Homo sapiens: one gene and its partners. The protein of the gene in region 2 interacts with the protein of the main gene of each other region in a biochemical or structural test. Each region holds a gene or a part of one and is shown on either strand. Other genes may lie near its edges.

What was found.
Region 1: the proteins of HNF4A (region 2) and PPARGC1B form a complex in vitro, tested with the Homo sapiens proteins (one study listed by BioGRID).
Region 3: the proteins of HNF4A (region 2) and TADA2A form a complex in vitro, tested with the Homo sapiens proteins (one study listed by BioGRID).
Region 4: the proteins of HNF4A (region 2) and DDX3X form a complex in vitro, tested with the Homo sapiens proteins (one study listed by BioGRID).
Region 5: the proteins of HNF4A (region 2) and ARNT form a complex in vitro, tested with the Homo sapiens proteins (one study listed by BioGRID).

The regions. Positions count from the first base shown.
Region 1 is NC_000005.10:149,850,640-149,857,144, reverse strand, and holds the end of PPARGC1B (peroxisome proliferator-activated receptor gamma coactivator 1-beta), read right to left. Parts: 3' UTR 2,123-6,505; downstream 1-2,122. UniProt on the Homo sapiens protein: Plays a role of stimulator of transcription factors and nuclear receptors activities. Activates transcriptional activity of estrogen receptor alpha, nuclear respiratory factor 1 (NRF1) and glucocorticoid receptor in the presence of glucocorticoids.
Region 2 is NC_000020.11:44,398,968-44,405,759, reverse strand, and holds part of HNF4A (hepatocyte nuclear factor 4-alpha), read right to left. Parts: intron 5,881-6,792; exon of another isoform or gene 4,388-5,880; coding exon of another isoform or gene 4,273-4,387; intron 3,207-4,272; coding exon of another isoform or gene 3,116-3,206; intron 1-3,115. UniProt on the Homo sapiens protein: Transcriptional regulator which controls the expression of hepatic genes during the transition of endodermal cells to hepatic progenitor cells, facilitating the recruitment of RNA pol II to the promoters of target genes. Activates the transcription of CYP2C38.
Region 3 is NC_000017.11:37,411,497-37,418,288, forward strand, and holds part of TADA2A (transcriptional adapter 2-alpha), read left to right. Parts: intron 1-6,792. UniProt on the Homo sapiens protein: Component of the ATAC complex, a complex with histone acetyltransferase activity on histones H3 and H4. Required for the function of some acidic activation domains, which activate transcription from a distant site. Binds double-stranded DNA.
Region 4 is NC_000023.11:41,336,528-41,341,214, forward strand, and holds part of DDX3X (ATP-dependent RNA helicase DDX3X), read left to right. Parts: intron 1-880; coding exon 881-938; intron 939-1,163; exon of another isoform or gene 1,164-2,508; coding exon 2,509-2,556; intron 2,557-4,687. UniProt on the Homo sapiens protein: Multifunctional ATP-dependent RNA helicase. The ATPase activity can be stimulated by various ribo-and deoxynucleic acids indicative for a relaxed substrate specificity.
Region 5 is NC_000001.11:150,864,957-150,871,748, forward strand, and holds part of ARNT (aryl hydrocarbon receptor nuclear translocator), read right to left. Parts: intron 1-6,792. UniProt on the Homo sapiens protein: Required for activity of the AHR. Upon ligand binding, AHR translocates into the nucleus, where it heterodimerizes with ARNT and induces transcription by binding to xenobiotic response elements (XRE).

The DNA of each region.
Region 1 (6,505 bases), on a different chromosome or scaffold from region 2:
GAGGTTAGAAAACCTGCCCGAGGACACCTAGCTGATAAGCGGTAGAGCCAAGTTTCAAAGCCAAGCAGCTTAGGCCAGGCGTGGTGGCTCAATGCCTGTAATCCCAGCACTTTGGGAGGCCGAGGTGGATGGATCAACTAAGGTCAGGAGTTTGAGACCAGTCTGGCGAACATGGTGGAAACCCTGTCTCTACTAAAAATACAAAAATTAGCTGGGTGTGGTGGCGGGTGCCTGTAATCCCAGCTACTTGGGAGGCTGAGGCAGGAGAATCATTTGAATCCAGGAGGCAGAGGTTCCAGTGAGCCGAGATTGCACCATTGCACTCCAGCTGGGCAACAAGAGCGAGACTCCATCACAAAAAAAAAAAAAAAAAGCCAAGCAGCTTGACACCAGAACCCCAGAACCCCAGCTTGTAAGCATTTTCCTTGTACCATACTGCTTCTGCAAATCAGGTTTTATTGTTGTTTTTAAAGAACATAAGAACATAAAGGACCTTTGAGTTCAGCTAAGCAAATTGTTTCATATTTGGGAAAACCAGGGACCAAGGAGGTGGTCTGCCCAATTCACACAATACAGAAGTGGCAGAGATGGGTCCCAAAGGCAGGTCTTGAGGCTCTGCATCTGCCATCCTATTCCTTGCACTACGGGTAGGATCTACTCAGGAATTCCTGACTGATGGGGCCAGTGCCCTGCAGTGAACGGAAAGGCAGGCCTGTTCTCCTGAAGCTTACAACAGATGGGCAACAGGTACTGAGCCCTCAATCACACACATATTCTCATCACACCAGAGAACTCTGCCCCTAAGTGGAAACGTTCCTATTAATTTTAATGGGAAAAAATCATGATGTGTTCCCTTGCAATCAAAGAAATCCAAACAATCTTTACAGATGGGGAAAATAAATCACCTGAACAAGGAGAATATATGTATGAGTTTGTATGAGTTTATGTAATAAATAGCAACCTGAAAATAGTTTGCACATAACATAAAATGTAATCATTCATTGCACCTGTTCTTATTTTATTTATTTATTTTGAGATGGAGTCTTGCTCTGTTGCCCAGGCTCTGTTGCCACGACCTTGGCTCACTGCAACCTCCGCCTCCCGGGTTCAAGCGATTCTCCTGCCTCAGCCTCCCGAGTAGCTGGGATTACAGGCGCCCCTCACCACGCCGGGCTAATTTTTGTATTGTTAGTAGAGATGGGGTTTCACCACGTTGGCCAGGCTAGTCTCGAACTCCTAACCTCAGGTGATCCGCCCGCCTCAGCCTCCCAAAGTGCTGGGATTACAGATGCGAGCCACCGCGCCCAGCCTGTTCTTGTTTATATATAATTCTCTTTGCCAGTGTTTCAACCCTTTGGGGCTTATGGGTGTCTGGCATTTAAAAATAAAGTTAAAGCACAAAAAACAGCTTTAGGGCAAAATACAGGCTAACCCCTTTGAGACGTGAGGAAATAACACACAGGCACGCAACTGAGAGTCTTGGAAGATGCCACTTCCTCACCCTACTTGCTGGAAGTACACAAAGGAAAATGTTCTGAGCTCATTCAATTACCGCACACAATGCAGGCCTGCTCTCTATGAGATCCTCTGACCAGAAACCATTTTGTAATTACAAATTGATGAGTGTTTTGCCTGGAACCACAATGCCAAAATACCTCCTACAGTGCATTTATTCAATGTGCTTATGTGAAAGTTGATATACCAAAACAAGGAAGTCTTTGTTCAGAAAGTGGTATAGCTTTATAAAAGTCAGGGCAAAAAGTCGTTCATGGAACAGCTGTTATGTGAGATGAGTCTGAATGGTTATTTTATTTATTTATTATATTTTATTTACTTTACTTTTTCAGAGATGGGGGTCTCACTATGTTGCCCAGGCTGGCCTTGAACTCCTGGGCTCAAGTGATCCCCCACCTCAGCCCCTGTGCCTGGCACGAATGGATATTATGAACTGTGAAAAGTGCTCTGAAGGAGGGAGAAGTGTGGTGAGGTGAGGAGCAGACATCATCCGGGGTCTTATCTGAGAAGGTGACGCTGAAAACTGAAATCTCTTCCCCATTTAGTGGTCAGAGTGTCCCTCAATGAGCTCCCAGGACCAACAAGGAAAAACACACATGGGCAAAGCTGTGGGTGGTATTTTGTTTTTAATCTCCATAGTGTATTTGTTAAGTTTATTTATAAGCAGATCACTTCACTATTTACAGTACATGAGCATAGAGATTCTACAGTTTCTGTGATGTAAACAATAACCCCACAGTGGGAGTTTGAGAAAAGAAGCCAGTTCTGAAGTATTTACAGACATTAAAATAGAACTTTATACTCACAGAATAATAATACATAGAGCAATTTGGTTAAATTATCTAGGAAACTATAGAATCTGACAATGTACAAATACAAGAAAACATTTTCTCATTTAGAAGGTAAGACAGAGAAATCACACCAGAAATAAAATAGGGACGATGACAACCACAATATGTAAAAGCAAAGAAGGTTTCCTCCTTGCCTCTTACGGATAAAGTATTTATATAAATAAGGACACAACCCAACAAAATGGAAAAAATATATAAAAATCCTCTACCAATTAAAAAAAATAGCAAAACTAAAAACTTGATTCTCAATCATTAGCAGTGTCCTTTAAAAAATTAAAATTTAGCTTTCTATTATAAATAACAAAGCAGATGTGTCCCTCTGTGTAGGTGAAATTCTTGCACCTTTCTCAATAAATGCATCAATGTAATTCCACACACACACACACACACAAACACACACACACAGGCACAGACGTGTGTATGTGTGCACAGATACACACACACACACCCCCACCACAAACACAGCCTTACACTCACGCACTCAGGCCGTAGTTACCTTGTTAAGCTTCCTAATAAATAATGCCCCCTACAGTAGTACCCCCGGGGATGACAAAACCTCACAGGTTTAGCCATTCCTTGGTTTGACCCTGTCGCAGAGTCAGGGAAAGCCCTGGCTCCTATTGCTCAGAATTCTCTAGGCTGTGTGGTCACACCAAGAGAAAATAATTTGAGTCCAAGATTTGGAAATGCTGGAAAGGACCATAGGGACCACCTTGCCCAGTTGATTAAGGCTGGCTACAGACACCTTCTTTAGAAACCTGGGGTTGGGGAGAGGGCTCGTGTTGGTTTCAACATTAGCAGCTGCCTCTGGAAGAAGCAGATGCTCCAAGCCAATGCTAACAACATGGCACAAGGAGGCGAGGGGGTGGGTGTGAATTCCAGAGCAGACTGCACTAAGCTGGACTTCTGGATGGTCATCTTCCCCAGAAACCATTTGGAAATCCAAGCAGTCTATTCCCCTGCTGCACATACCACCTTGTCCACGCTCCCCTTGAGATTTCCCACCTGTTTCCATTGGAATCAGAACATCCCTCAAGAAACAAAGTTGGGAATAGTTTATGACTTTTTATTCCTAACACAAAAACATTTGACAAGATTTTAAAAATACAAAATACAGAAACAAAAAATTGAACAAAAAAAACTATTTGGCTATTCGGGGATCATATCAAAGATCATGGCCAGGCCCCCCACAAAATCCTTACACCCAACTTCTTATCTTGCCTTGAGGGCAGAATTCGGACCACCCAGCAAAGGTTTACTTAACAAGGTCAGCAGCTGGGCTGCCAGTATTGCAGTTACAGTAAACCCTTCCCGGGCACCTGGACCTCTCCTGGTCCACTCCTGTCTCTTCTGCCCACAGGACAGCTAGTGCATTTCTCAGTTCTGCGTGAGAGTCTACTAAGTGGCTGCTTCTGGAGTCTTCTGACCCTAGTGTTGCACTGATCTCTGAACACAAAGGCAGTTCGTTCAGGCCATTATATTTCATTCCCAAAGTTCACGATGGACAGCAGGGTGGCCGAAAGGATTTATTTGCCTTCCATCTGGGTAGCTGGTGGAGACAACCTTTGGCCACTAGATGGCGACCGCATGTTGATAAGGCAAAGTGCTGAGGTGGAAACTGACCAATTCCCTTCACAAGTAACCAATGAGCAAGGGTGGTCAAGTGAAAAAGGAAGCTTTTGTAAGCCGCCTTGGAGACTCCTTTGACCAAAAATACAGCCCAGGGGGGTTCTAGTTATATAAACCCCTCTTTGAGGAGTTGTTGCACAGCCCAGGGACCGACCACCTATAAAACCTATTTTCCAAGCCCCAAATTTGGGCAGTTGGATTTTTGTACTCCTTCCGGATGTGCAAAGCATACTGATGAAACAGAGTATCTGAAAAGCTGTCCCCAGGAATCACGAAGGCTCAGTCACTGCTGCTATACCATTAAAGAAACAAAAAACAAAAGCTGCCCTAAACATATGCAGCGCGATCAATGCCTCCTGTTGCCCCATATGTTTTACAATCATTTGAAAGAAATGTGTGAAAAGCTCCTAAGCTGTTTTTCTTTAAAAAAAAAAAAAAAAAGTGTATTGCTAGTATTGTCTGAGAACAAGAGAGAAACAGCCAAATGGTCACAACATTCGGATTAACAGCTATCCAGTGGGGACAAAGACAAGGTTAATGTGAGATTTGACATCGTTACCTAGCCAAGTTGGGGGTTTAATTCCTTACTGTCCCCACTAGAAACTATGGCTTAGATCTGTCCCGGGGAGCTGGTCTTCTTGGATAAGGCAACTCAGCCAGGACACAGTGGGATTGAACCTACTGCTGGTTGGTTCTTGCAGAGAACCCTCACCCTGAACAGGAGCTGGGTCAAGTCAGAGAATGGAATCAGTTTCAAGGAGGAGTGATGGATTCCCAATGCTCCTGGTTGGGGATCTGAGCCTCTCAGAGGTGAAAGGGACTTTAATGCTCATATTCAACATTCTCATTTGGTAGATGAGGAAACAGGGGCCCAAGGTCACATAGCAAGTAAGAAACATTAGGGTTTCTGATTCTGAGATGGCTTACAGTTAAGTGACTTACTCTACAAACTCATTTCACTCAGCTGGGCTGTTTTCATCTTTCTGTAAAGGTAGGTACCAAGATCTAAACCCATGGCTCCCTGTTTCAAGGGCTTCCAACAAAAGGCCAGCAAAGGGTTGGCCCCAGCACTGGCTCTCCTGCTGCTGACATCTCCAAAGGCATCTCTGCTCTCTCCTACCTGACAGCAGCCCCATTCCCAAACTCCCTGTCCCAGTCTCTAGAAGATCACTTCACACAGCCAAAGGAGACTCGTATTTTCCAGTGTAGAAACACGGACCCAGGCTGAAGTGTTGGGGTTTTCTCAAAGTGCTTTTATTGTTTAATGCAAAGTCAGCCTTTGCCTACTTCCTGGGTGTCTTGTAGCCGGCTCAGGGCCTCCCCCATCCCATGGTGGTTCTGGGCCAAGGACACATCCATGCATGTGGGTTTCCAACTCTGCAGCTCCCCTCCATTTACCCGGTACCTCCAAACTTGACGAGCAGACCTGGAGCCCATCTGTGTGTAAAAACCCCTCAGGGACTAGGGGACTAACTTTGACATATTGCACATGCACTAGTTTTCTTCTTCCCCATTGGTAAGGATGACAGGGTCCCTCTTCTTTGGCCAGGGAAACCATGACATTCACTTTCTTTGCTGTTGTACATCCAATTTCTTTCCTTAATCATATCTGATGCTGGGATGTGGGTAACCCCAAACTGAAGGCAGCTGCTAAATCTCAAATGCTAAAAAAATACTGCAATTTTGACATCAGTGAGTCAGATCAATACATCCTCTGGGGCTGATTTTGCTTCACAGTTAGGATGAGCCATCTCTTAAGCTGCAGGCTCAAATGGGATTAACTGAACTCTATACCTGGGATGGGCCATGGACTGAGCTGTCCATGCAGAAGGACCAGGCTGTCCATGCCTTCCCTGCCCTTTTACTCACCACTGCACAGCAGCCCCAGTGGGCCTACTGCACATGTCTAGGAGAAATCACTCTAAGAAAACCAACAGGAACAGGCTTTAGGCAACAAGAGACGTCTCACTGCATCTCCTCCCACGTCAGAACTTGAGTACTGGGTCTTTGCAGCTCAGAGCATTCCTCCCTTCCTTCTCCTGCCCGCAAAGCCCTGCCTCTCTCCTGAGTACATATGACACTCCATGCTGCAAGATTTCAAGGCAGATGCAGGTATCTTATGGGTGCTTTTTGACTCAAAGCAGCTTTTTGGTTGAGGGGGCAAGTTGTGACGGAGCAGGGGGTGGGGGCCTTAGCTGCACTCCATCCACTCATATTCTTTAACTCTTTGATGCATTTTCCTTCGGTAACCAGAGCCCCCGAGAATGGGGATTCTGATTCAGCCTTGTACAGACTGAGGAAGGAGATGGAAGAATTCCACTTAGTGGTTGGATCAGACATTTTTGGAAAACACCAGCACGGCACAGAAACGGACAGTACGACCTGCCCTGTGCGGGCGGCTATCGACACAGTCTACAGCAAGCTTTATGGCGATCACATGTAAACATCATCAAGAGCAAACACTAGGACAGAGCTACAACGAGATGGTTGCCAATGGCAGCTGCTCCCTC
Region 2 (6,792 bases):
GGGAGCCGGCCTCCTAACTCGCAAGGGGGCTGTGGAAGGGAGAAACATTCCCCTGCATTTTCCCCAGAACCAGGTCCTGTCCCTCAGTTCTTGCCAAGGGACCAGGGCTGGGTGGATCTCAGCTTGTGTGCCCAGGGGCCCCGCAAATTCTCTGAGGAACGAGAAAGACTTGGGCCGAGAACAGTCACACTCATGTGGCCTCCTAGGAGGGTCTGGACACATCTCCCATCCCTCCCATCCCACAGGCAAAAGCTACTGCATCTACACAAATGTGAGGGGGGCCGTAGAGGCAGGTGGAAAGAGGATCTTGGGCTGGGTGCCAGGAGTCCTGGGCACTACTGCTGATGCTGCCACTAACTCGCCTGTAAACTTGGGCAACTTCGCTTTCCCTGCTTCAATTTCTTCTGGGCCTCATTTTCTCTAACCATAAAAGGCAGCAGTTTGACTGGTCTGTTTCCAAATTTAAAAAATTTAAAAAATTTAAAAAATTTGTTTCCAAATTTAAAAAAATAGCAGCAGCTGAACCCCCTTTATTTGTCAGCAAATCTTTCAGCAAAGATAGACCCCTTTGAAGAAGATGACAAATGCAATGGGTCAGCCCCCGGGAAAATGCAAGCGTGTGTGCCACACAGTCCACACACACGCACACACGCTACGCACAAGCACACACACGCACCACACAGTCCACACACACGCACCACACAGTCCACACACAAGCACACACACGCACCACACAGTCCACACACACGCACACACCACACACAAGCACACACACACCTTACACACCACAGTCCACACACACCACACAGTTCCCACACACGCACACACACCACACACAAGCACACACACACCACACACACCACAGTTCACACACACCAAGCAGTCACACACACGCGCACACACACCACACAGTCACGCACACACACACCACAGTTCACACACACCACACAGTCCACACACCACACAGACACACGCACACACACACATATATACACACATGTGTACACATACAGTACACACACATGAACACAGAGTCCACACATAAGCACACACACGCTCCACACACATGCACACACATACACACAGTCCACACATGCACACAGTCCACATACATTGCACACACTTGCACATAGTCCACACACATGCATACATACAAACACATCAACACACACATATACAAATGTGTGCACACATACAGTCCACACATATACATACACATACACACAGTCCACACACACATGCTCACATGCACAAACATACACACATACACAGACACACACACACACACGTGTATTCATAGAAATCCTGAATCCAACCTTGGATTCCTCAGGGGCATCCAGTTAAGACCCAGAGAGGGCCATGCACTGTAGGTAACAGCACAGCCTCTGAAGTCCTTCTGCCCAGGGTTCAATTCCAGCTTGCCCACTTTTTAGCCGTGTGACATTGACTGTGTTCGTTTACTTCTCTATGCTTTTGTTTCCTCACTTGTAAAATGGGGAACGTGATATTCCCCTAGGTTCGTTATGGGGATTCGGTGAATTCTCATATGTGTATGTGAAGTGCTTGGCACATAGTAAGCACTATATCAGTGTTCATGAAATAAAAACTTTTCCACATAGGAAAACTCTCGGAGCAGAGGACTTCCAGGCTCCTTGCACAAGCAGACACTGCCGCATCTCATTTCTGCCATCGCAGACTCCCAGGTGTCCCCAGGAGTGCAGCCCCCTCCACTTGGTGAATTATTCCTGGAGATGGGGATAATTGTTAAGCCACGTGGGTGCCCTTTCTCCCTCGGCCTCTCCTCCCCCGACCCCCGGGGAGAGCTGACCCCCACAGCTCCTGGCCATTCAGCAGGAGGCTGGGGAAGTAGCTCCCACCTCTGAGGCAGGATGGGCTGGGGGCTGTCAGCTCTATCATCTCCCCTCTGAGGTCAGCCGAGCACCTCTATTCCACAGATGAGGACACTGAGGCTTAGAGAGGAAAAGTGGCTTCCTGGTGTCATCGCACTGCTTCCCGTGAAGCAGAGCCATGGGTTTATGGTCCAGGCTTGCTGGGCTACTCCAGCCAGTGCCACACATGTTGAGGTGTCTGCTGGGCCTCTAATGAACAAGGAGCCACCCAGGGCTGCTGCTCCATTGGGGTGGGGAGAGGACGGGGGAGAAATATCCTTGGAGCCTTTCAGACACCAGCCCAGGATGTACTCAAAACACTTCAGAGGACAACTTCACATAACCCCAATTCAGACCACTTCAAACTCCAGTGAGGAATGTGGGGACCCTGCTTACAGATGCTCAGAGCCCTTGAGATGACCCATGGTGGGGCCAGGCCCTTTACCAGGGCTAAGCACCCAGGCACCTCATCTTATTTATCCTCTGGCCAGCCCTGGGAGACAGACACTATTATTTATTCCCATTTTATAGGTGAGGAAACTGAGGCTCAGAGAGGAAATTGCCTTGCCACATTCACACAGGTTGGAAGGATCTATGCCGGATTTGAGCCCAGATCTTTCTGGTTCCAGAGCTGGAGGTGGTCTTGTCTTTGGGACTCCCAGTTCAGGGGCTTGGCCTCTGCCTCAGGAGCACACAGTTCCTGGGCTTGGAAAAAGTGATGGGGGCGGGGAGCAGCCCAGGGCAGGGCAGTGGTCCTCGTGGGGCCACACAACACTCCACCTAGTGCAGCAGCAGCTTGTTTGCTATCTCTGGTGTGTTTTTGCCTTGCGCTCCTGGCGTGGTCCTCAGACAGGCCTAAAAGCCGTCCAGCCAGCAGGCCTGGGGGAATGAAGCCTGTTTTGTAGAAGATACAGAAGCCAGGATAGGGGAGGTGACATGCCCAAGGTCACACGTGACTGGACGGCAGGGGCAGGTGAGCACCTGCTGAGCTGACAACAAGCAGTGCCCAGCAGCTGCCTCCTCACCCTAGCTGAGCTGACCACAAGATTCCAGACCTCAGCTGGAGCTGCAGCCTCATACTGGCTGAGTGGCTCCAAGACACAGAAGGAAGCAGGGTGGCAGGCTGACCTCAGCCAGCTGCCTGCCCCCTCTCCTCTGAGGCTGGCCTGGGACCGATGGGGCTCTTCCCTCCAGGAGGGGTTTCCGGGCCTCCTCTTTTCCCCTACCTCCCTGTGGAGAACTGTCCACCCCTCCAGATATGCTCCAGTGATGTCGGAGGGGATGCCTCAATCTGGCGAGACGCAGCGGCAACAAAATCTGCTCAGAGACAAACGGACATGTTGCTGATATGAATCTCACTTGGTGAGTGGCAACAACAGAGTCCTGCATTTGGGTCTGTGCAGTCGTGCACACCAGAGACCGCTGACCCCCGCCCGCAGCACAGGGAACTGCATATATACACAGCAGGTACAAATATGGGCACACGACAAAACGCCCATACAGGATAAAGATGCAGGAAGAACAGGGCACTCCAACAGGTCCGCATGCACAAACGCATGTGCTCTATGACCCGCACACACAGCACACATGTACAAACATCCACAGACACAAGTACACACACATACACACTTACATACATAAGCAAGATCAACACGGGCAACTCCTAAGACACAAACACAGACCCACTCAATGAATACAAAGGAAAATAGACCCAGAACTCACACACAGAGACAAATGAACACACATATGCAAATGGGTTCCTGAAGGCATCACCCCACCCATACAACCTACATGGAAACTCACTATCACACACGAACGCACACACAACACACACAGTGCTGAGTTGGCTTCGTAGTTAGCAAAACTTCCCTGAGAGCTCCATTTTCCCTAAGTGCCAATTTCATTTCCCTAGGAAAGTCCCAAAGACACCGAGAAATGCGGTTATGTCTCCAACCACCATCTCCAGGGATACAACATCCCTTGCCGTCTCTCTGAACCTAGGCCCAAGGGGTTCACGAAGGGGCCGTGCTGGGCTGAATCGCTGGAGCTGGGCACCAAGGGGGAGCTCACCATCACGTCACTGTGCCAAGCGCCAAGCAGAGCCACTGTGAGGCAGTGAGGACTGGAAGGGCCTGGGAGGAATAGCCGGGATCGACTTTTGCTGGAAATTGGCCCTTGCAGGCCTCCCTTCACCCAGAATGCCTGTGATCACTGTGCCTGGGCACATGGGCTTCACTTGGCAACACCTGTGCTGGCCTGTAGGACCAACCTACCATTTTGTATCATTCTCCTCCCACCCCAAAGTTGAGTGCCAAAGATCTGCTCCTGGACCCAGGCACACCTGCCCCCACTGGCACACCTGGGCACATCTGCCCCCACCTACCATTGCCCATCGTCAACACCTGCACATTCTCAAATTCCAGGGTGGTGTAGGCTGGGTCCAGTGCAGCACTGTAGTCGGCCATGTCCATGTCGACGAGGGTTTTGGAGAGTCGCATTCTCCCTGCCTCCACGCCGCGGCCACCTGCCCTACCCTGGGCGCCCACCCCGAAGGCCCCCGCCCTCCGCCCTCCCACTGCCTCCTCCCAGTGCCCTCTCTGCCTTCCTTTCAAACCGTCCTCTGGGAAGATCTGCTGGGAGTCTTGGCCTAGCCTCTGTGAAGGGGTGGAGGCTCTGCCGGGGAGGGGTGGGGGTTAATGGTTAATCGGTCCCCCGCCGGTGGATAGGCTGGGCGGGGCTGCAGGGATTTGGCTGTTTGTTGGTTTCTGGCTGACACCCGGGGTGCTAATTACAACTGCTGGGGCCCTAACTCACCGATGTTCAGTTATCAATTGTACAAGGCAGGCATCATGACTCACGGGCACTCATTTGACCCTTGACTCACCCACCCCTCCAAGCCATTGTCACCCCAAGTCAGGCATTCTAACTGATACTATCAGGCACTGACAGCCTACCTCCGAGATCCCCTAATTCAATAACTTCCCAAATCATTGACTTCTACCCTCAATGCTTTTGCAGAGATAAGGCTGCCCCATGGCCCACGATTTAGAAACCTAAATCCCAGGCCCCAGATGCCAATCTTCTGGATCCTTGTTCTGGGAGCTCCCTTCCAGTTCCCCCGCAGTTTCCCGGTTCCCCTGGGAGCAGAATGGACTGGAAGTTTGGGAGGGCCAGATTCACCTCCAATTCCCCGCTCCTGCTCCCTGTGATCCCACCCTGCCCCTCTCCGTCTCCCACAGCTCCCAGTGTTTCTGGCCCAGGCTGGCTCCATCTCGGATTTTCCCATCACATTCTCCTGTTTCCCTCACCCCCACCCCCTCCCGGAGCAGGCAGAGACCTGGATTTACATTCAGGCACCTACCGTCTACTAACTGGGACCTTGGGTAAATGATTCTCCTCTCCGAGCCTCAGTTTCCTTTTCTGTAAAATGTACAATCAACTTCAAAGGGTGGTTTGAGAAGGAAATGAGATGGCATAAATCAAGCACCAAGTGGGGCCTGGTAGACGTCCATCCTCTTCCCCCTCCTCCCTCTCCCTGTTTCGTATCCCCCTTGCCATCCCCCTGTTTCTCTCCACCCGTCTCCTACCTTCAGAGTGGGCTTTGTGGGGGTATCGCCAGTGCAGTCACAGGCAACCCAACCCTTAGAAAGTCCTGGTTCCTGGTTCAGTGCTCTGCTGTGGTTGTCCTAAAATTCATCATGACTTTTGAACAAGGGATTGTGCATTTTTGTTTTGGACGGGGCCCTGAAAATTACACAGCTGGTCCTGGCTGTCTGAAGCTCATGGTGCACTCTGTTCTTCTCACTCCCTCCAGCCCTCATTGCCTTCTGTGCAGACATTTTCAAGGGCTGCCAATCAATCTGGGGAAGTAAAGTCTTGATGTAGAAGGCAGAGAGTGAGGGCAGAGGAAGAAAAGCCTGAGACTTGGGAGGCCTGGGAGCCTGTCCTCCACTGCTGGCTGGAAGGGCAGGTTGGAGGGCCTCGGTGACACCTGTGAGCAAGAGTGGGCGAATTAGTGGGAGCACCAATTAATGAGTGAGTGTGTGGGGGAATTGATGAGTGGGTGAATTAGGAGTGAGTGAATTAGAGACAGGGAGAATTAATGAGTGAGTTGAGTGAATGCATGAATGAGTGAGTGAATGAACGAATGAGGGTAAATTACTGAGTAAGTGAGCAAATGGGTGGGTGAATTAATGAGTGAATGGGTGGGTGAATTAATGAGTGAGTGAATGAGTGAATGTGTGGGTGGATTAATGAGTGAGCAAATCGGGAGTCAGGGCATGTGTGTTCGAGTGGTATGAGGAGGCATCTTCATGTTCTTTCCACTGCTAGAAGCCCTTTCTCTGCCCTGCTTAGCTTTATTCTGTCCACTTGATCTGACCTCTGAAGCTGAGATGACTGGGGAGTGCTATTGCCTGTAGGGAAAGGGGAGAGGGAGCAACTGTTGTGGAGGACAAGAGAGGCTAGATTTGATGTCAGGAGACCTGGGGTTAGGAACTAGCTCAGTCACTATTCCGATAACTTTATTTACATCGTCTCTTCTCAGGGCTTCAATTTCTCCCTCTGTAAAATAGAAAGATGATCCTGGCTCAGTTTTCTGTTAGCCAGGACAAGACTCTGAGGGAGGGAGCAAGAGGCAGCCCCCTGCAACCCACACTATGAGACTTGATAAGGGGCTGAAAGAGACCAAATACCGGCGGGTTCCTCCCATGCCTACCTCAGGAGTATCTGACCTGGCTCCACCGGCCTTGGGGGCAGTGCAGAGGTGGGAAGAAACAGAAGATCCGACCAAGGGGTAAACACAGAAGAGATGTGGAGGGCAGCTCCGGGAGGAGCCTCCAAGGGCTGAGCCCAGGCCTCTGCCACCTGCCTGGCACCTATGGCAGGCCACAGGCACAGCTAC
Region 3 (6,792 bases), on a different chromosome or scaffold from region 2:
ACTGCAACTTCTGCCTCCCGGCTTTAAACGGTTCTCCTGCCTCAGCCGCCTGAGTAGCTAGGACTACAGGCGCGCACCACCACACACAGCTAATTTTTTTTATTTTTATTTTTAGTAGAGATAGGGTTTTACCATGTTGGCCAGACTGGTCTTGAACTCCCGACCTCAGGTGATCCACCCACCTCGGCCTCCCAAAGTGCTGGGATTACAGGTGTGAGCCACCACTCCCGGCCTTCAGGTGACTATTAATAGCAAACTAGAGTGGAAGTTGATCAAGGAAGAAAAATAAACGATGAAGTTAGGCAATAAAGCCCTTTGACTCTGATTCTAAGGGAATTATGAGTATCAAAATAAAATCAATTAATACATATTGATTACCCATTGAACACATGACACAAACATATGACCCTGGGTCTTACAAGAAAATGAAGCAGCCGGGCGTGGTGGCTCACGCCTGTAATCCCAGCACTTTGGGAGGCCGAGGCAGGCAGATCACGAGATCAGGAGATGGAGACCATCCTGGCTAACACAGTGAAATCCCGTCTCCAGTAAAAAATAAAAAAAATTAGCCAGGCATGGTGGCAGGCGCCTGTAGTCCCAGCTACTTGGGAGGCTGAGGCAGGAGAATGGCATGAACCCGGGAGGCGGAGCTTGCAGTGAGCTGAGATTGTGCCACTGCACTCCAGCTTGGGCGACAGAGTGAGACTCTGTCTCAAAAAAAGAAAAAAAAAAAAAAAAGAAAATGAGGCTGAGATGGACCAGGCATATTCTGATTAACCTGTAGTTAAACCTAGAAAAGCCATGGGATTTCTGTTTAGACCAATAACATGTTTCAGGCACCTTGATAAGAAATGTGTCAGTGGTAAGATAAAGGAAAGATCATCCCACCTCCCCCTTGATGTGGAACTTGTTTCTAAGAGTAAACCACGGTAGAATAATTTAGAGAATTATGGGGTATGTATGAAGTAAATTCAAGTAGCCATAACTATGGATAAAAAAATTATACTGGCCAGGTGCCATGGCTCACGCCTGTAATCCCAGCACTTTGGGAGGTCGAGGTGGGTGGATCATGAGGTCAGGAGTTTGAGACCAGCCTGGCCAACAAGGCAAAACCCCGTCTCTACTAAAAATACAAAAATTAGCTGGGGGTAATGGCGAGTAACTATAATCCCAGCTACACGGGAGCTGAGGCAGGAGAATCGCTTGAACCTGGGAGGCAGAGGCTACAGTAAACCAAGATCATGCCACTGCACTCCAGCCTGGGTGACAAGAGCAAGAATCTGTCTCAAAAAAAAAAAAATTATACTGCTCTTTTTCCCTGATTCTGAATATATGAGATTTGGCAGAAATAGAAATTCCATTGTTAGATGTTTAGTAGTATCCTAATGAGAAGAATCAGAAAAGTACTTTTTGGGTGTTGTTTCCTCTTCAACAATTCGTGTTTTTTTTGAGATGGAGTCTTGCTGCATTACCCAGGCTGGAGTGCAGTGGCATGATCTCGGCTTACTGCAACCTCCACCTCCCGGGTTCAAGCAATTCTCCGTCTCAGCCTCCCGAGTAGCTGGGAGTATAGGCGTCTGCCACCACGCCCGGCTAATTTTTGTATTTTTAGTAGATACAGGGTTTTACCTTGTTGGTCAGGCTGGTCTTGAACTCCTGACCTCAGGTGATCCACCAGCCTTGGCCTCCCAAAGTGCTGGGATTACAAGCGTGAGCCACCGCTCCCGGCCTGACAGAACAATTTCTTAAAGGAGCTCTAATTTACTTTTTGATCACACTCCTAATATAAATTTAGGAGAGAATGGAGTCTTCAGACACATCTAGTTCAACTCTTTCATTTTACATGTAGAGAAATCTAAGTGGACTGCTCTAATGCTGGGAGTGTCCAAAATAAACTTCTTTTTGGAAATAATTTCAAACTTAAGTTGCAAGAATAAGAATACAAACAATACCCACATACCTTTTGTTAACCTTTTACTCCATCTGCTTTGTCATTTGCATGTGCACTGTCTGTCTCTGTGTGTGTGTATATATATGTTTTTTATTTTTTAATTTTTTTTATTTTTAAGAGATGGGGTCTCACTGTGTCACCCAGGCTGGACTGCAGTGACACAATCATAGCCCACTGGAGCCTTGAATTCCTAGGCTCAAGCGATGCCCCCACCTTGGCCTCCCAGTGTGTTGGTATTATAGGCATAAGCCACCATGCCTGGCCCAATCTTTACTATTAAGGTTGCAAAAAGATGATTCCCCCCCCACCCCCTGCCAAATCTAGTGCTCTCTCCACATTTACTAGTTAGCATTTTTAGTTTTTATTTTAAGTTCAGGGGTACATGTGCAGGGTTGTTATATAGGTAAACTTCTTGTCACAGGGGTTTTGTGTACAAATTATTTTGTCACCAAGATAATAAGCATAGCACTCGAGAGGTAGTTTTTGGGTCCTCTCCCTCCTCCCACTGTTCACCCTCAAGAAGGCCCTGGTTTCTGTTCCCCTCTTTGTGTCCATGTGTTCTTGTTTTTTTAGCTCATACTTGTAGGTGAGATCAGAGGGTATTTGGTTTTCTCTTCCTGTGTTAGTTTGCTTAGGATAATGACCTCCAGCTCCATCCATGTTGCTGCAAAGGATGTGATCTCATTACTTTTTTATGGCTGCATAGTATTCCATGGTATATATGTACCGCATTTTCTTTATCTGTTCACTTTTTTACTTATTTTTTATTATGGACACAGGAATTCCTATTTTTTCAAGGATTTACGATTTATTAGCATACATAACTAGCTAGGTTCATGGATTATTCCAAATTTGGCCACTGGGAGTCCCTTCAAATGGGCTCCTACATCCTTATAGCGTACTCTCATCATTTTTTTTTTCTTTTTAGCATCTCCGTCCTTTTTGGCATAACTAAATACTCCAAGTGCATCCTGTACTCCCCCCGCCCTGGAATCAGCCACTTCTCTGAGGAGTCCTGGTACTTTTACAAGGGAGTCATATCAGAGACCGAGATCTTTTCATCTACTAGAATATTTTTGCATCTTGGCCCTTTTGGCTGACAGAACTAGGAAATATATGCATGTTATGTGCTATATACATATATGCCAGTATACATACACACATGCACATTTACGTACACATATACTTCTTTTGAGGAAATCATGAGTTCACATTGATACCTCTAATTCATCATCATGGGCTTTTTTCTTGTCTGCATTAATTCCTCATTCACATGTCTCTACTCAGTGAGAACCCTGGCTCCCAACATCAATATAATTCCACTATCCCCTGCCCTCAACCCCTTGTACTTACCAACTTCATTGTTTTCTGGTTTAATCTGTCCCTTAATCCTTTTTGCAAAGAAAAGAGGACTGTTTTTTACTCTAATTTTTTTCTTTTTCTTTTCTCTTTTTTTTTTTTTGAGACAGAGCTTCGCTCTTGTCACTCAGGCTAGAGTGCAGTGCCACGATCTCAGCTTACTGCAGTCTCCACCTCCTGGATTCAGGTGATTGTCCTGCCTCAGCCTCCTGAGTAGCTGGAATTACAGGTGTCTGCCACCACACCTGGCTAATTTTTGTATACGGGATTTCACCATGTTGGCCAGGCTGGTCTTGAACTCCTGATCTCAGGTGATCCACCCGCCTTGGCCTCCCAAAGTACTGGGATTACAGGCACAAGCCACCGTGCCTGGCCTCTAATTTCTTATAGGAAAGATAGCATACTATATATATGTGTTCTTTTGTACTTTTAAAAAAATTCTTCAATCAGCACCAGGATTGTACTTTTTTCCCCTCACTTAATAGTATCTCCTGGAAATACTGTATTAGTTGGTAGAGGTTGTCCTCATTCTGTTTTTTATAGTTGCATAATACTTCATTGTGTGGATATGTTATTATTCAAATAATTGCTTATACTTGGACATCTAAGTAGTATTTTGCAATTACATCTAATATTATATATAACCTTGGATGTGTGTATTTTTGTATTATTGGAAATGTATATTCATGGTAAAAAATTCCTGGAAGTGAGATTGCTGGGTCAAAAGATAATGCCCCTCTATATGAGTTGTACTATTTTGTATTCCCACCAGTGATACGTAAGAGTGCCCCGGCTGGGCGCGGTGGCTCAGGCATGTAATCCCAGAACTTTGGGAGGCCGAGGTGGGTGGATCATGAGGTCAGGTGTTCGAGACCAGCCTGACCACCATGGTGAAGCCTCTACTAAAGATACAAAAAATTAGCTGGGCTTGGTGGTACGTGCCTGTAATCCCAGCTACTCAGGAGGCTGAGGCAGGAGAATCGCTTGAACCTGGGATGCAGAGGTTGCAGTGAGCCAAGATTGTGCCACTGCACTCCAGCCTGGGCGACAAGAGTGAAACTCCTTCTCAAAAAAAAAAAAAAAAAAGTGTCTATATTCCCACAGCCTGACTAATTATATTGTCAGGCATTGAAACTTTTGCCAATCTGATGGGTGAGAAACTATATGTCAGGGTAGTTTTAAATTTTATCTTGCTTATGAGTGAAGCTGAACATTTTTTCATATGTTTAAGGCCATTTTATGTCTCTTTTTTTTCCCCAAATTGTCTTTGTGTCTTTCGCAGCAGGATCTTTGGTCTTTTATTCTCCCTCTCAATTTTTTTTTTTTTTTTAAACGGAGTTTCACTCTTGTCACCCAGGCTGGAGTGCAATGGTGCGATCTCGGCTCACCGTAACCTCTGTCTCCCGGGTTCAAGCGATTCTCCTGCCTCAGCCTCCCAAGTAGCTGGGATTACAGGCACATGCTGCCATGCCCAGCTAATTTTTGTATTTTTAGTAGAGATGGGCTTTCCTTCGTGTTGGCCAGGCTGGTCTCGAACTCCCAACCTCAGGTGATCTGCCTGCCTCGGCCTCCCTCTCAATTTTTTAAAGTTGTTTGCATACTAGGGATTTCAGTGCTTTTTTTCTGATATGTTTACAAATATTTTCTTAAAGTATACTTGCTTTTTTACTTTCCTTATGGTGTTTTTGCCAAAAAAAGTTTTTTGTTTTCTTTTTATTAATGTAGTCAAGTTTATTAACCCTTTATTGAATTTGAATGATGGTTAAAAAGCCTCACTCGGCCACACATGGTGGCTCACGCCTGTAATCCCAGCACTTTGGGAGGCCGAGGCAGGCAGATCACGAGGTCAAGAGATTGAGACCATCATGGCCAACATGGTGAAACGCCATCTCTACTGAAAATACAAAAATTAGCTGGGCATGGTGGCACACACCTATAGTCCCAACTACTTGAGAGGCTGAGGCAGGAGAATCACTTGAACCTGGGAGGCAGAAGTTGCAGTGAGCCAAGATCGCACCACTACACTCCAGCCTTCCAGCCTGCCAGCCTGGCAACAGAACGAGAGTCCGCCTCAAAAAAAAAAAAGCCTCTCTCTTGTTTCCTGTTATCTCAGTGAAAAATTAGATAAAAAGTCTTTCTCTTAGATTTTAAAAAATTTTGAAATACCTTTTGAAGGACAGTTGGGCTCTGTGTATCAAAAACCTAAAAATGCTCAATAACTGTACACTCAACAATTTTAGTTCTAGGAAAATATATATCCTGAGGAACAGATGTGAAATGTACATACAAAAGACCGGGCACAATGGCTCACGACTGTAATCCCAGCACTCTGGGAGGCTGAGGCAGACGGATCACCTGAGGTCAGGAGTTCGAGACCAGCCTGGCCAACATGGTGAAACCCCGCCTCTACTGAAAATACAAAAATTAGCTGGGTGTGTTGGTGGGCGTAATTCCAGCTACTTGGGAGGCTGAGGCAGGAGAGTCGCTTGAACCCGGGAGGCAGAGGTTGCAGTGAGCTGAGATCGCGCCACTGCACTACAGCCTGGGCAACAGAGCAAGACTCCGTCTCAAAAAAAAAAAATTAGCTGGGCATGGTGGCATGCACCTGTAGTCCCAGATACTAGGGAGGCTGAGGTGGGAGGATCACTGAGTCTGGGAGGGAGAGTTTGCAATCAGCCAAGTTTACTATTTGGAAATAAAATACATAAGACAATATGTCTACATATGTGATTTCTTTTTTTTTCTTGAGACATAGTCTCGCTCTGTTGCCCATGCTAGAGTGCAGTGGCATGATCTCAGCTCACTGCCATCTCTGCCTCCTAGGTTCAAGTGATTCTCATGCCACAGCCTCCCGAGTAGCTAGGACTACAGGTGTGCGTCACCAGGCCCAGACAATTTTTGTATTTTTATTGGAGGTGGGGTTTCGCCATCTTGACCAGGCTGGTCTTGAACTTCTGGCCTCAAGTGGTCCACCTGTCTTGGCCTCCCAAAGTGCTGGGATTACAGGCATGAGCCACCATGCCTGGCATACATAATTTCAAAAATTAAAAATAATAATGCTCTAACTATAATAAAAGAGATAAATACAAGAGAAGTAATCTATGGTAAAACAATGCAATTTATAATAAAGCAATATGTATTTCAATATGTTTAGACATAATTACAATAGAAGACATGATTTAAGTACTAGATACTTGAACCCATATGTTGAATCACTGTGCATATACAAATGCAGAATGATTCAAGCGTGTCATGTTGGTGACTAAGAAACACCACAAGCTAGAATAACTAAACGTTCTGAACAAAACAAAATACATTCTCCTCTAGACTTATATACAATTGCCTGTCTGGAAATTTCAGTGCATATTAAAATTCTCAAAAATACTTTGCTTTATATATAACATGGAATTAGCTTCTAGGTCATATGAGATTTTTCATTCACTTGAATGTCTGGTGGGACATTTGAAAGTTGCACAGGACAC
Region 4 (4,687 bases), on a different chromosome or scaffold from region 2:
TGGGAGGCCAAGGCAGGTGGTTCACCTGACCTGAGGTCAGGAGACCAGCCTGGGCAACATGGCGAAACCCCATCTCTACTAAAAGTACAAAAAGTAGCCTAGCGTGGTGGCGCACCCCTGTAATCCCAGCTACTCGGGGAGGTGGAGGTTGCAGTGAGCCGAGATCACATGACTGAATTCCAGCCTGGATGACAGAGGGAGACTCTGTCTCAAAAAAAATAAAAATAAAAACAAACGAAACAGTCAAACTACTTAAGAGTTGTGCTTAACATAGTGTTCTGTAAGTGGTAGGTATATTGCTATTTTTTTGTTGTTCTTAAGAGTACTACCCGACTAAAAATACTTGGGCAATATTTAGGGATGAAGTATCTAACTAAAAGAACGGCCACTTCGAAATTTGTCCTGACATTTTTCAGGTGTGCATTTTAGGTTTAAAATATCAAGTATTACGGAAAGTTGGCATTGGAAACTTTCATAACCGGCACTAAAACGAATCCTTTATCTATTTGACATTGAGGAATAATTTTGAGATTCAGTGTAAGCTTTAGTTTGGTGATTAGGGAGCCTGTGCTATGGAACATGTTAGTGAAAATTTATTTTGAATGCATGAATTAAATTTGGACAGTTTCTACTGAACAGCACAAGCATCTTGGTGTGCCGCCTTCTGTAGTATATACAATAGTAATATTGCATTTGCTTAGAGCATTGCAGACTTGAAAACATTCTTAGTCACATTCTCATTAAGGGTTGGTATTAGCCCTGTGAGGTGGACTGGGCAACTACTTGAATGCAGTACTAGCAAATGCTAGAGGGCAGGACTAGTTTTCTCTTAATGTAGTATTTGAGCACATGGGGTGCTAACCATCTCACTCTCTTCTAGTTTGCTGGCCTAGACCTGAACTCTTCAGATAATCAGAGTGGAGGAAGTACAGCCAGCAGTAAGTACAACATCTTGTGGGTTTATTGAATATTAGAGCTTAACATCTTAAGATTTCATTGGGCTTATGTAAAATTTAAGAAATTTGCCTTTCAATTTTTTACTGCTTAAAGAATTATGTAGTCTTTGTGTTATAGAATTATGTAGTACTTAGTGATCAATCTAAAGCATCGTTGCCTTTTTTTTTTTTTTTTGGTTGAGATGGAGCTTTGCTCTTGTTGCCCAGGTTGGAGTGCAATGGTGTGATCTCGGCTCACCGCAGTCTCTGCCTCCGGGTTCAAGCGATTCTCCTGCCTCAGCCTCCCGAATAGCTGTGCCTTTCTGATAATAAAACATCAATGACTAGCTGGCTCTCTTGAGTAAAAGCAGCTAATCATTGGAAAGAACCTTATTATATCAAATTATCTCTAGAAGAGTTTTTGTCCATTATAAATCCTGAGCCCAGTTTAGAGGTGATGGGAATGTGTCCCTGTTAACTGACTATATTTATTAAATTGAATTAAGGGAATATGCATTTCATTGGTTATAGCTACTCCTTTCTCCTGAAGAACAGAAGACTATACTGAATTTTGGATTGGTGGTTAGGTTAGGTTTTCAAATGTGTCATTTCTTTTAAAAAGGCATTAGAAAAGTTGCTTTTTTTCTTCTAAGGGGGGTTATTTAGAGACTTGTTAGAGGTTAGTGTTAAGATAGGGGATCTTGGTGGTTTATTATAAGGGCAATAGACCCTTATTTTTAGCTCAGATCTCTTCCTACTTATTAAAACAAAAGTGAGTATGGGCTATGATGTGTCCTCATTTTTAGGCAAGAACAGCTTCACTGGGAACAAAACTTGGTGTTTGCTTTAACTTTCACCTTATTTGTCATGCTAAGAATCTTTTAGGAACTGATTGTCCTAGTAGAGATTTTTAAAAATATTTAATTCAGTCTAGAAGTGAAAAAGAAAAATGACACGTTTACTAGTTATAAAGCAAATTTATTTGGCTTTATGTTGTTTTTTTTGCTTATCCATATTCTAGGCTGTACTCCTGCTCGCATACAGAGCAACTGTCAACTTTCCTTAAACTCAGCAAGCCCCAAATTAAAACCTGCAATTCCTTGAAATTAACTCCCCTTTGCAGCTTTTCCTTGTTTATTTATTGTATGTTTTGCAACTTACTGGCATAGAAACAAAAGATTGTGAGATATGTTACATGAGTAATCTTAAATTGTTACAGTAATACTTAATGCTTTTGTTGACAGTTTTGATGACAGTTCTCTTAAATCTAGCAGGCCTTTAAAAAAATCACATTAAATGACCACTGGTGGCTAAATGTGCTCAATTTGTGGATTTCAACTATTAGGTTCCAAATCAGCTTTTTTTTATCAAACTCCTTTCAGAGTTCTCCTTATGAAGCAGTAACCCATTTAAAATTAGATTCTTATTTTTCCCCCCTCTCAGTGTCCAGGTAAGTAATCAGATTGGAAGGCTGGAGATTTTAATTTCCCAGAACCATTTTTTAGTAACAGAAATTTAAATGGGAAGGTTTTTTGGCATTTAATTAATTTTATATATATATATATTTTTTTAGAAGGGCGCTATATTCCTCCTCATTTAAGGAACCGAGAAGCTACTAAAGGTAGGTCCTCACAAGTAACTTCGTAGGTCTATTTTTTGCCTCCTTTAGAAGTTAGTAAAGCCTAAGGAAAACCAGGCATTTGGGGGAGGTCTAAACATGGTGTTGTTTTTCTATGCTTCTGTCAGCCTTGGTTCAAATACTAGAGCTTAATAATTTTGGAAGAACTCATCTAATGTTACGCAGTGGGAAATTCGGCATTCCTATGTCAAACTGTTCTGACGCCAAGGGCATGGTTTTGTACAGTTTCACTAGTGTTGTGCTGAATCTGTTTGTAATCATTCACAGCATGGTTTTAGTTTGGAAGAGGTGGGTGCCCTACTGTGTAAACCAAGCTGTATAATGATAACAACCTGGTTATTTCTGTCTTGGCAAAGTTGCTAGAAATGAAGATGGGCTTATTGTAGAACAGTTAACAAGTTACAGCGTTGGAAGTGATTCTCTGGTTTCATCTCCTTGCCTTGCTGCTTTTGAAAGGTTTTGTCCAAAATGTATTACAATATCTGGTGTCTTTTCCCATTGTAATTGTAACGTAGTGATAGATGACAGCTAGTATATGTTTCATATTATGAGACAGCTGTTCGGGTGCTTTATATTCTGTAAAATAGACCATCCAAAATTTGGAGGAAAAGGGAAAGTCAGGAAAACCAAAGATTAGGAGGGAAGATACTGTATAAAGAAGGCAGATAGGAAGAGTGGAGAGTCCACAGGGGAGCACATGGTTTGCTGCTGTTCCTCCATCTCCATATGTAGTCTGTATTACCTTCACTGTCCTGGCAATGCATGGATATAAAATCTGTATTATTTCTACCAGAAGATCACTTTGGCTTTTTTTTTTTTTTTTTTTTTTTGAGACGGAGCCTTGCTCTGCTGCGGAGGCTGGAGTGCAGTAGCGCGGGCTCACTGCAACCTCCGCCTCCTGGGTTCAAGTGATTCTCCTGCCTCAGCCTCCCAAGTAGCTGGGATCACAGGCATGTGCCACCATGCCCGGCTAATTTTTGTATATTTAGTAGAGACGGGGTTTTGCCTTGTTGCCTAGGCTGGTCTCGAACTCCTGACCTCAAGTGATCCACCCGCCTCAGCCTCCCAAAGTGCTGGGATTACAGGCGTGAGCCACCATGCCTGGCTGGCATTATATTCTTTTTAGGGGAGGTTACTTTGGAATTTGTCTTTATCATCATGGATGTTCTCAATATTCCTAGTATACTAGCTAGAATTGACCCTCGTGTATATGGCAGTATCATAGAGGTTTTAGAGCTGGTAGAGATCTGGCAATCTAACTTAACTCTTTCTTGCTAGCAAAGGCTGTTGGTCACCTGACTGGCCTAACGGTAGGAGGTAGAAGGCAGAAGGAAAGTAACTGAATTGAGAAGCTGTTTCTGTTTAATAAGGTGTTGCTGAAGCTAGTTAAACCCTCTACCTGTCTTTAAACCCTCTACCTGTCTTTGGGTTAATTTACATGTTTGTCATCCCCTTACCTGGATATTTATAGCTGTACCCAGGAACCTTGTCTATACTGAGAATATATAGTGATGAGGGTTTTTCTTTTTCCCAGGTATTCCTGATTGTCATCAAGCTTATAGTAGATGAACCACTAAAATAATACTACAATTTGACATTAGTGTTCTTGTACTTTATACTATTGAAACTGAAAAATACTGTATTAAACCAAGTAATCTGACAGTCTATGAATGTTCTAAATGAATACCACCTCCAAGAAACATGGAAACAATGGTAACTGTTTTTCCTAGTAAACTCATTCACACCTATAAAATGAATGGAAATTAAATTGTTATGGTCACACAACGTCATAATGCGTTACAGGCAAAGCTGTTGACCACTTAGAGGTAGTATTCATTGAGAAACATTCTTAGACTGTCAGATTGCTTGATTTAGTGTAAAGTAATTTTTTTTTTTTTGAGACAAGGGTGTTTCACTCTTGTTTCCCGTGCTGGAGTGCAGTGGCGCAATCTTGGCTCACTGCAACCTCAGCCTCCCGGGTTCAAGTGATTCTCCTGCCTCAGCCTCCTGAGTAGCTGGGATTACAGACGTGGGCCACCACGCCTGGCTAATATTGTATATGTAGTAGAGACGGGGTTTCTCCATGTTGGTCAGGCTAGTCTCGAACTCCTGA
Region 5 (6,792 bases), on a different chromosome or scaffold from region 2:
GAATGCCACGATGAAACACCTGGATCAGATTCAACAAAGACAAACATATAACTTTAAGTCTGAGTAACAAGATGAAAATATAAATTAAAATTAATCTGACAGATTTAAAGTTTGAAGTAATAGAAGTAGGAAGACAAGATTAATAAAAAAAACAAGGTGATAAAGGCCTAAATGAGGATGGCACAACGAAAAGGTAGTTACTTCTAAAATTTTAAACTATGCAACTTCTGAGTAAGGATAGTGAATTAAATGTATCTATCTATTTCTACTCTCTTCTCTCTTCACTCACACACAGGAAAAAAATTTTTAAAAGCAAAAATTTTTACACAAGACATAAAACCACAAGGATGGAAAGAATAAGAGAAGAAGAGCAATAATTTTTTTGAAACTAGAGATAAAATGGACTATTGCCTTGGGAGATCGACAAGAACTAAATCCTAAACTGACAAGGGAAAAAGCAGAAAACCAACTCAATTTACGCTATGGAATTCCCCAAAGTCTCAGAAGCTGGTGAGTCCAGGTAACTCTGGGTATGCAGGGTAGGGTGAATGAAGTGAAAATAAGGAGAATTAGTTCAGCATCTGTTTACTACAGAGATGGATTCCTAGATCCTTTTCTCTATTCCTTCTAACCAAGGCAACTACCCCTCTCCATTCTGTCAAAAGACAGATTTACTCTCTGGAGAGTATAAATCAAAGGTCTTACAGTCTAGTGAACACGACGTAAAGGTGAAAGTGAGGGACCCGTACTGAAAACAGGAAAACTAACACCAATGTATGCATACTACATGCTTCATTTTTCTTCTGTGTTATACTGCCTATTTCCTATATTTCGTATCTCCACTTTCTTGGTTTACTATCTCCTACTGGTAGAGCCTATCTTCTAGTGGATTCCTGAAAGGGTGTAAGAAATGCCTTGGATGTATGAAAATATTTCTTCTATTTCACTAATTGATAGTTTGCCTAGCTATGGAATTCTAAATTAGAATTTATTTTCCCTCAGAATTTTGAAGGCATTACTCCAAAGTTTTTTTTTTTTTTTTTGAGACAGAGTCTTCGCTCTTTTGCCCAGGCTGGTGTGCAGTGGCGTGATCTCGGCTCACTGCAACCTCTGCTTCCCAGGTTCAAGCAATTCTCCTGCCTCAGCCTCCCAAGTAGCTGGTACTACAGGCACACACCACCACGTCCAACTAATCTTTGTATTTTTAGTAGAGACGGGGTTTCACCATGTTGGCCAGGCTGGTCCCAAACTCCTGACCTCAGGTGATCCACCTGCCTCAGCCTCCCAAAATGCTGGGATTACAGGCGTGAGCCACCAAGGTCAGTCAGCCTGTTCCAAGGTCTTCTACTTTCCAGCATGACTACTGAGAAAAAAGACCAATCTGATACCTGAATCTTTTGAATGTGAATAATCTTATTCTCTCTGAAGCTTATAGGATATTCTCTATCTGATGCTGAAATTTCAGCATAATGGGCCTTGATGTGTGCACAGCCCCTTTGATCTGGAAACTAATGTCTTTCACTGGGACACTTTATTTAAACAGAAACAAAGAATTCTGTTAAAAGAAATAAAAATGATGCCACTGGAGAGAAGGAAATGAGAGAAAGGGAGCAGAGGACTCCCTTATAATTTTTTTGTAACAAACATTTTATAAAACTATCTAAGTCTTTAAATATTAATATATGGATGTATAGTTTTGATTTAAATAACTTTTATATATGTATGTATACACACATACATATACACACACACACACGTATATTTGGCAAAAGACCTGAGAAGAGTTAATAACCCAGATAAACACATAAAAAATAAAATCCAAACACTTATAGTTCCTTAGCCTGGGGAAATGAAAAACTGAATTGTGATAGTGATGAAAGATACAGAAAGGTAGGAAGAACAGCAGATTTAAAGGAAATACTGGTGAGTACATACATATATAGGATGTTAAAGATTATTCAAATAGAGGCTGGGCGCAATGGCTCACACTTGTAATCCCAGCACTGTGGGAGGCCAAGGCAGGTGGATCACTTGAGGACGGGAGTTCAAGACCAGCCTGGCCAACATGGTGAAACCCCATCTCTACTAAAGATACAAAAAATTAGCCAGGCGTGGTGGCACACTGTAGTCCCAGCTACTCGAGAGGCTGAGGCACAAAAATCATTTGAACCTAGGAGGCGGAGGCTGCGGTGAGCCAAGATCGCACCACTGCACTCCAGCCTGGGCAACACAGAAAGACTCTGTCTTTAAAAAAAACAACAACAACAAAAAAAAACAGATTACTCAAATAGAGCTGGGCATCGTGTCATACACCTATAATCCCAGCTACTAGGGAGACCAAGATGGGGGGACTACTTGAGCTCAGCAGTTCAAGACCAGTCTGGGCAATACAGTGAGACCTCATTTCTATAAATTAAAAAAAAAAAAAACTATTCAAACAGAGATGCAGCCAGGCACAATGGCACACACCTGTAGTCCAGCTACTCAGGTTGCTGAAGTGGGAGGAATGCTTGAGCCCAGGATTTCAAGACCAGCCTGGGCAACATAGTAAAACCCTGTCTCAACTTTAAAAGAAAAAGAGAGAGATATCTTTTAAATAGATAAAAATATAGGAAAGTAGTTTATGTGAGAAGCCAGGAATGAAATTTTTGGAGTCTTTTATACATAAAAGATAAATAAAGGGTGATATGGTTTGGCTCTGTGTGTCTCCACCCAAATATCATGTCAAATTGTAATCCCCAGTGTTGAAGGTGCAGTCTGGTGGGAGGTTATTGGATCATAGGGGTGGTTTCCAAAGGTTTAGCACCATTCCCCTAATGCTCTCTCATGATAGAGTTCTCAAGAGATCTGGTTGTTTGAAAGTGTGTAGCACCTTCCCCTTCTCTCCCTCTATCCTGCCAGCCATGTGAAGACATGCTTGCTTCCCCTTCGCCTTCCGCCATGATTCCAAGTTTCCTGAGGCCTCCCCAGCCCTGCCTCCCATACAGCCTGCGGAACTATGAGTCAATTAAACCTCTTTTCTTCATAAATTACCCAGTCTCAGGTAGTTATTTATAGCAGTGTGAGAATGGACTAATACAAAGGGAAGAGGACTATGGTAGGTACCAAGTGAATGTCAAATTGAAGTAGGAAGGCAAGCAGCTAGAAAGGCAGGTAGGTGGGCAAATGGGAAGAAATGAAGGAAACTGCTTGGTTTACTATTTAGTTCTAGCCCCAAGCCGGGCACTGTGGTGTACACTTGTAATCCCAGCTACTCAGGAAGCAGAGGTGGGAGGATCATTTGAGCTCAGGAATCCAAGACCAACGTGGGCAACATAGCAAGACCCTGTCTCAAAAAAGAGTCAAGACCCTGTCTCAAAGAAGAGTCCTAGCCTCAAGGGTGAGAAGAGAAAAGTAGAAGCATACTGAACAAGAGAAAGAAACAAGCAGAAAGATAAGCAAAAAGGACAAAGAAGGAACAATCAGTGATAAAGACCTAGCAACAGTGTCTCTGAAACCAAGTTTCTAGGAGAGGCTCAATTATGGAGTATCAAGAACTTGTAGAGGATTCTAATAACAATCCTAAAAGCTGCAGTGCATGATTCATGCCTGTAATCTCAGCAATCTGGGAGGCCAACAGCAGGAGGATCACTCGAGGACAGTAGTTCAAGACCAGCCTGGGCAGGCCGGGCGCGGTGGCTCACGCCTGTAATCCCAGCACTTTGGGAGGCCGAGGTGGGCAGATCACGAGGTCAGGAGATCGAGACCATCCTGGCCAACATGGTGAAACCCCGTCTCTACTAAAAACACAAAAATTAGCCAGGCGCGGTGGCACGTGCCTGTAGTCCCAGCTACAGGAGGCTGAGGCAGGAGAATCGCTTAAACCCGGGAGGCAGAGGTTGCAGTGAGCCGAGATCACGCCACTGCACTCCAGCCTGGGTGACAAAGCAAGACTCCGTCTCAAAAAATAATAATAAAATTTAAAAAAAAAAGGACCAGCCTGGGCAACATAGCGAGATCCTGTCTCTACAAAATTAAAAAATTAGCTGGGCATGATGGTGCATACCTATGGTCCCAACTATTCAGGAAACTGAGGAGTGAGAATCGCTTGAGCCTAGGAATTGGAGGTGTTGCAGGAAGCTATGGTCACGCTACTGCACTCCAGCCTGGCTGACACAACAGGACCTTGTCTCAAAAAAACCCTTAAAAGTATTTAAAGAATTGAAACATAGAACTAGGAGAAAGAAATATAGAATGTTAGGCTGGGCGCGCTAGCTCAAGCCTATAATCCCAGCACTTTGGGAGGCTGAGGTGGGCGGATCACAAGGTCAGGAGATCGAGGCCATCCTGGCTAACACAGTGAAACCCCATCTCCACTAAAAACACAAAAAATTAGCAGGGCATGGTGGTGGATGCCTGTAGTCCCAGCTACTCGCGAGGATGAGGCAGGAGAATGGCGTGAACCTGGGAGGCGGAGCTTGCAGTGAGCTGAGATCGTGCCACTGCACCCCAGCCTGGGTGACAGAAGGACACTCAGTCTCAAAAAAACAAAACAAAACAAAATGAAGAATTATAGAATGTTACAGAAAAGATTTTAGGAAACTACTCCTTTTTTTTTTTTTTTCCTAGAGACAGGGGCTCACTCTGTCAACCAGATTAGAGTCCAGTGGCATGATCATGGCTCACTGCAGCCCTGACCTAGCAAGCTCAGAGATCCTCCCACCACCTCAGCCTCCCAAGTAGTTGGGACTATAGGCATCCACCACCACATCTAGCTAATTTTTTTATATATATTTTTGTGGAGACAAGGTCTCCCTATATTGCTCAGGCTGGTCTCCAACTCCTGGGCTTAAACAATCCTCTCACCCTGGCCTCTCAAAGTGCTGAGATTACAGGTATGAGCCACCACACTCAGCCTGGAAACTACTGTTCTAGCTCCTTTTTTTAGCACCTTGCACTTGGTTCTCCAACCAAGCAATGCCTTGCCCCCAGGCTGCCTAATGTGGTATTTCACCCTTTTCATCTACAAAAAAGACAATACTCCACCTACCTCCTTCTCAAAAGATATCCATTGTACTATATTTCAGTAGGAAGGTGACTCTAAGTCACAATGGAAAAAATCATAACTTGGAGATTAAGAATGATGACTGTGTAGATGGACTGCCAACAATAAAATTCTGTCTCTAACTTCTAGTAGCTATGTGACTTCAGACAAGTTACTTATTCACTCTCTGTGCCTTAGTTTCCTCATCTGTAAAACAAGAATAATAATACTTACCTAATACGATTGTTATAAAAATTAAATGAGAACAGCTGGTAAGTATTACTAATAAATATTAGATATTATTATAGTTAGTACAAATTCATGATGTCAATGGCTTAATTAGTTTTATCCCTTCAAAGGTATTTCATATTAACAGTGGGTTTTACATTCATTTTTATTCCACAAACATACATTGAACTCTAATCCAACATACTAGGCACCCACTGTAAGCACTGCAATGCTCTGGTAAACAAGGAAAGCAAAAGTTCTGCTCTCATGGAACTTATATCCTAAGTATGCTGGTTTTGTTGTGTTTTTTGAGACAGGGTCTCACTCTGTCTCCTAGTCACCCAGACAGGAATGCAGTGGCACAATCATGGCTCACTGCAGCCTCAACCTCCCAGGCTCAGGTCATCCTCGCATCTCAGTCTCCCACGTAGCTGGGACTACAGGGAATGCTACCACACCCTGCTAATTTTTTGTATTTTTTTGTACAGATGGGGTTTCACCACGTTGCCCAGGCTGGTCTCAAACTTTTGGGCTCAAGCAATCCACCTACATCAGCCTCCCAAAGTGCTAGGATTACAGGTATGAGCCACCATGTCCAGCCCTAAGTATACTGTTGAATCCATAAACTTACTTGTCCATTCAACTACAATGAAAACGTGGAGGGAAAATATAAAATGGGCCTCAGAGGGTGGCTCACACCTGTAACCCCGGCACTCTGGGAGGCCGAGGCAGGAGGATTGCTTGAGCCCAGGAGTTTGAGACCAGCCGGGGCAATATAGTGAGACCCGGTCACTATCTAAAATAATAAAAACTTTAAAACAAGAAAATACATTGACGAAATTATGAAAAGTGACATAAATTTGAAGAGTTTATGTGAAAAGTTGGAGACAGTTGCTACAGACTAGACATAAAGATTAGCAACAAAATAGGAAAGTGCAGCCTGGCATATAGAAGGAACTTAATTATCCACTCCTTTCCCTGGGTTTGTCTCCTTAAGTGTAAAATGATAGGTGTTGTCATATTTCCAACCTGAAGATTCACTGATGTCTACTTACTAAAGTCATTATGGCATATTAGGCAGTCGTGGTTTTTTTTTTTTTTTTTTTTTTTTTAGACGGAGTCTCACTCTGTCGCCCAGGCTAGAGTGCAGTGGTACGATCTCAGCTCACTGCAACCACCACCTTCCAGGTTCAAGCGATTCTCCCGCCTCAGCCTCCCGAGTAGCTGGGATTACAGGCACCTGCCACCATGCCTGGCTAATTTTTGTATTTTTAGTAGAGACAGGGTTTCTCCATGTTGGCCAGGCTGGTCTTGAACTCCTGACCTCAGGTGATCTGCCCACTTCGGCCTCCCAAAATGCTAGGATTACAGGCATGAGCCACCATGCCCGGCCAAGGCAGCATTCTTAAAAACAGATGGCGGCGGAGCATGGCGGCTCACGCCTGTAATCCCAGCACTTTGGGAGGCCAAGGTGGGCGGATCACCTGAGGTGAGGAGTTCAAGACCAGCCTGGCCAACATGGAGAAACCCTGTCTCTATTA